2 separate regions of the Homo sapiens genome follow, and region 1 is linked to region 2. The links come from fine-mapping of genetic effects on gene expression. A gene starts in region 2. The other region holds a variant in brackets. All regions are shown on one strand. Distances are between the middles of the regions.

Region 1 (2,911 bases), 54 kb after region 2:
CTACAAGATCATAGACTTTGGGGACTCCCCACAAGGTGTCATTGTCTGTCCTTTCTGCAGGTTTGAGACGTGCCTGCCAGATGATGAAGTTAGTAGCCTGCCCGATGACAACAACATCCTTGTAAACTTGACTTGTGGAGGCAAAGGGAAGAAGTGCCTGCCAGAGAACCCTACTGAGCTGCTGCTCACCCCCAAGAGGCTGGCCTCTCTGGTCAGTCCTTCTCACACGTCCTCCAACTGCCTGGTCATAACCATCATGGAGGTGCAGAGAGAGAGCTCCCCGTCCCTGAGCTCCACTCCTGTGGTAGAATTTTATAGGCCTGCGAGTTTCGACTCTGTCACCACTGTGTCACACAACTGGACTGTGTGGAACTGCACGTCCCTGCTGTTTCAGACATCCATCCGGGTGTTAGTGTGGTTGCTAGGTTTGCTCTACTTCAGCTCCTTACCCTTAGGAATCTACTTACTGGTGTCTAAGAAAGTCACCCTTGGGGTCGTCTTTGTCAGCCTGGTCCCTTCGAGCCTCGTTATTCTTATGGTGTATGGTTTTTGCCAGTGTGTTTGTCATGAATTTCTAGACTGTATGGCACCTCCTTCTTAACTGATATGCAAAATAAGAAATTGGACACACATTGCCCTGTTTGAGTGTGAAGTTAGATAATTTATAATTTATTTTCTTTTATGTTCTTTATGATTAGTATCCATGACATTAACAAAACCCTTGGCCACATGTTGACTTGATTGGTTTTCCTGTAGGCTGGAAGTAAAAATGTTCATTTCTACTTAGGGGTTAGCAAAATTGTATAAGCTCACACTTCATGGAGCACTGACAGCAGTGAGTCTTCCCAGAGAAAGGACAGGGTTTCTCTCAGCACTGCCAGACAGACGGCAGGGGTGTGGTGTGTTATACTATAGGGAGAGCATGGATCCCTCCTTTCGTATTCATGGATGTTCTATGATGGCAGTTGGACACAAGAGGAAAGTTGCTCTGAGACACAAAGTGTGTACTCCTTTCCCACCCCATACCCCTGGTATTGGAACACCCTAGAATTGTCTTCAGGTGTTTTCTCTCTTAAGTCACTCTCTGTGGTCGGCGATCCCATTGAGATACTTGTTTCCTCTGCCCATTCTCCCTTGCCAAGAGGAAACTCGGTTCCATTCCCTTGGGTAGTTTCAACTGAATACCAGTTTTGCCACATTACTAAGGAGAATGAAAAGCACTGAGGAATTTGCATCACAGTCAGCTTCATGGCAGAATGTGGCCATTTGTCCTTGAGACACACTCTTTCCTCCATGTCTGTTTTCCTCTCTCCTCAGTCTTATCTGAGAAGAATGGAGGAGAAGGAACTTCTCATACAGC[G/T]GTTATTATTGATGAAAACCTTCATTTGAGTCTTTCCTTATAACATCTTAGTTTTGGTTTTTTTAAACCACATTGCCCAATCAGCCTCACCCCTTGTCCTGAAAAGGTTCCATTTAAATTAGTTGCTATAAATTCATCAATACTTTTTTTCCCTATTATATTTTTGGTTCTATTAGGATTTACTTAACTGAATCTTATAACAATTCGAGGTGAACTGTGGCAATGAAAACCAGAAACAGTTAATGAGATGCTTCAGCTCACAGTTTGAAGTGCTGAGAACCTAAGTATTTTGCTGTACGGTACTGAGCTGTACCAAAATATGATGGTTTAGGTTTATGTGCAAGACTTTGTGTTGTAGTCTAGACAAAGGGGTGGGCAAGAGACATGCAAAGCTGAAGCCCTGCTTGAAAAGACCCTTCAAGGAAGTAAAATGGCAGGGGCAGAGTGCAGCTTAACATGTTGCTATCCCTGTTGTTTTTGAGTTGGTTTTGGAATGGATTCAAGTTCTTACACAATTTATTTTGAATACAAGCATAATCTAGGTGATTTGAGTTAATGAACTTCTTTTCATGATGTAGGGAAAGTTGAATGTATATATTTCTAAGAAGAATTTGTTTAGCAGATTACAAGTTGGCAAAATAGACTGTTCACAGAAACTAGGCAAAAATTTAAAAAAACATTCTAGTCTCTAAAACCCATTACTAATGATTAACATTAAAATATTTGTAACTCTTAGAAAGGGGGCATTACTAAGACGACTTTAACTTGTTATGAAATCTTTGTTGTGTGATGCAGGTACAGTGCGCCCATTCCAACTGGAATAGCAGTTTGATTTTAATTGTAAAACTAAACTTCGGGAATATGTATGCCCAAAGTAAGTAGGATGAGAATAGTATACATGGGATATGGTCCAATGAATTTAAGCCCCAAGATACAGCTAAATACATTTATGATTTCATAAAATCTAGTTTAGATAGCATTGTGATGCAATTTCCAGAAATCCATTTGTGTTTAGAGTAAATACCATGTTTAGAAGATGTTTTGTGGTTTGGATTTATATATTTGTAAGGTTTTTTTAAAAAAATGTTCGTTTTGTTTGAAATGTAACATTGAGTAAATTGGTGAGTTATATAATGAGATTTCTAGAAAGCTCTGGACATGGGTACGATGTGTTTTGCTTCTCTGTATAATGTCTACAGTGATAAACTTGTGTCTCCGTGTATTGTGGCAGTCTTTTTTTCTAGTTAATTTGGCTTTAGAGAGCAATCTTTGTATGACACCAGAAAACTCTTCATGCTATTGAATGATAAAAAGATAATGCTTTAATATTTTATTCACTGTGATACTATTTTGTTTGTCTATTAAATTGTTATTATTTCCAAATTTAGAAGTTTGATTTCTCTGACTTATGGTTAAAATTCAGTTATGACTTTGCACCTCTGTTAGCTTTAGATAACGGCAAACATGAACATTCAGAAACGTTGGTTCAGCTAATGCCTTTATCATGCCCGTGAAGACTTCAGAACTTTCCAACAAAGGGGACCTAACCCA
Region 2 (2,911 bases):
ATTGAGATAGCTGGGAGAAATGTATGTGCATTTTGAATTCTGGCAGGTATTGCCAAATGCTTAATGGCCTGCCAAAAAGACCTTGTCTTTTGACTTCATCTGGAATATTATTGACTTCATTCAGAATATTCCCATTACAAGAAAGTGGCCAGTCTCTCCGAGGAACAAACTGTTTTCCTTTTCCACCATGAAATAGATCTTATCTTTTCATTAGTTAATATAGGTGTACCTTCAAATGGCAATAACATTGTTCTGCTTTGTGGCTTCTCAAGTAGTAAACCCAGAAAACATCAGCTACCGTGGATTTTATTATAAATCATTGACATTCCTTTGGTGATTCACAAATGCCAAAAAATAAATGTCATGTTCCCCAGGGTTTGAAGAAAGACACTGTAGCTTTTGGATTCAGCAACGGATCTTTCAAGAAAACAGTATGGAGGGATGACTCACTCCCCCCATGGAGGCTGCCCTCTAGTTCGTCCTTTAGAGGAAGCATGACCAAGGGTCTGCTGGTACTTTTCTCTCCCTCTCTAAGAATTTCCTCAGGAGAGGAAAAAGTTAGCTTTCTTTTCTCTGCTCCTGAGTGCCATGGCCTGCAGTACGTGACCAGTCCTTGGCACAGAGTCACTCAGGGCTCATGGTAGATGCTTAGCGGTCACAGCCAGTAGCTGCGCAGTGTGGCAGCAGCTGAGATCCATACTGCAGCCTGAAAGTTGTGTTTCAGCTTCTGAGGTTACAAGTGTATCCAGTGTTTACATCAGAGATAAAGCCCCCTTTCCCCTCTCTCCTACGGGAGCCCTCAACAAGACAGATACACGGGTTGGGTGGAGTGAGACCACATCCAGCAGAGGCAAAGCTTGCTAAAAGAGAGAGGAGGAGGAGGGGGAGAGGGAGGAGGCGGCACGGCGTCCCTTGGCAGCTCCGTGCATGCTGCGGCAGTTGCAACAGGAGAACCGAGTACCAGTTGCTCAACACTTTATCACTTTGCATTGCTCTTTCTCCTCCCTTAAGTGAATTTCCATTTTGAGGGTACAGCTCCACAGGAGAAAGGTGTGGTGGTGGTAGTGGTGGAGGGTGTCTGTGGGGGGGATGGTGGTGCGACGGGAGTTGGAATGTCCAGTGTGGGGAAGCAAAGGAGTGCCTACTAGGATGCGAATACCACTTGGCCCTGGGCTCGCTCCGCTTTAGCCTTCCCCTCTCGCTGGGGAGAAACAGGCGGTTTGTGAGGGAGACTGAGAGAGGGGCGTGTTTGTGGTGGTGGCGGCCCATCGGGGGTCCTTGTCCTCTCCGAATACCCGGACTGCTGAGGGGAAGGGCCGGGGGGGCCCCGGCGGTTGCCATGGTGACGCAGGGTCGGCGGCTCAGCGCCGTAGAGACAAAGCCGCCCGCCCGCCAGCCCGCTAGCTCCTCGCGCGAGCTCCTCCTCCACGGGAACCTCCCTCCCCTCCCAGGCGCCGCCGCAGCCGGAGCGGCTCCCGGGCCCTGGGCCGCCGCCGGCCAGGTAAGGCGATCGCGCCCGCGGCCGGGGAGGGGTCGGCGGGACGCCGGGCCTCCCCAACGCTGGGGCAGCAGCCAGCCCCGCAGTCCTGGACGGCGCCGGGCCGCCCAAGCGCGCCGAGGAGAGGGGGCGGCAAACTTCGGGCCGAGCGGCGCCGGGGCCCGCGCGCGGAGTCTCCCTCCGGGCACCACGGGGGCCGCCGTCCTGGCACCAACTTGAGGGGCTGTGCGGCGGAGGGCGGCTGCGGAGCGCCCGCGCGGGCTGCACCTGCTCAGGGAGCTGCCCCTCTGTTGTTGTTGTTATTTTCCTTCTTGGCGTGCCATCGAGGCTTTTGGGGGAAAAAAAGGTATGAAAGTATTTACCTTTGGACTTTCATGTTTCATGGCATTCTCTTTGAGGAGGGGTTGGGAGGGTAGTAAGAGGGACAAGCGAAAGATTTTTACGAATCTCTGAAAAGTGAGCCCATTTTTATGCCTGTGGCTGAAGCATTTTGAGGAGGCTTCTGAAGTTCGTTTGGATATTGAATCGAAAGACCTTTTTTTCTTTGGAAGGTGCAGTTGCACCTATAACTGGATGGTAAGGGTAGCCCGGCTTTCCCCGACTAGCAAGACCAGAATGTAGAGCAGTACCGATACTTTGTCAAGGAGATACTTGGCACCGAGGTCATTGCTTTTGTTTCTAGAAGGTATTGTGTTCATGCTGTAAGGAACTGGAAAGTGCCTTTTGTTTTTATGTGTAGGGAGGCAATCCAAAGCACCTCTGGAGGCAGGTAGCTGGGCGGTGTTTGCATCGGTGTTTATGAGTGGGATGATGAGGACCACGATGCGGTTGCCACTGGGGCACTGGATAGGTTATAGGTACCTTTCTCAGTGGCCCCAACCCTTGCAATCATTTCGTGATAGTTTGTTGCAGACGCGAAGCACAGATTTAAATTGTGACTGTGAAGACTTTTTTTTTTGGTACTTAGACATCATCTTACATGTAGTAATATGAAAGAAAACAGATACATTTTCAGAAATACAGTTGATCAATTCAGAAGGAAATTGTATATATGTTAATAAGATTTGTTTTAAATCATATTTAAACAATATGAGATGTCATATTGATAACTGGAAAATAATCTAACATATAAAATTGTATATCCAACTTAGTAAAATAATGTATAAGTTGGAATAGGTCATTTAAAGAACTATATGGAATGCAAGAAATTATATTTTTGCTAGAGAGTAATTAATGAAAACAGTACCACTGATCATTTTGAATTGCAGTTAAGTTGATTGGAATTCTGCATATTACAGCTACTTGAGGTGTCAGGCAAAGAGTGATTATTTAATATTCCTCTTCCCTCTTTTGGGATTTCAACACCTGTTAGCCTGCTGATTACTAGGTTTCTCAGTCTGTTCATATTTGCCA

The links.
Region 1: its variant is fine-mapped to the expression of RNF182 in whole blood (TOPMed, PIP 0.93).

Annotation. Positions count from the first base shown.
Region 1 is chr6:13,977,263-13,980,173 of GRCh38, forward strand. RNF182 (ring finger protein 182) reads left to right here. Exons shown (of 3, transcript NM_152737.4): 3 at 1-2,911. The coding sequence ends at 601. Among named protein-coding and RNA genes, the nearest start is that of RNF182, 54 kb to the left of the region's middle. The variant G/T (reference allele first, on the strand shown) is at 1,361.
Region 2 is chr6:13,923,523-13,926,433 of GRCh38, forward strand. It overlaps RNF182 (ring finger protein 182), which reads left to right and starts at 1,430. Exons shown (of 3, transcript NM_152737.4): 1 at 1,430-1,501. RefSeq lists an enhancer at 325-825.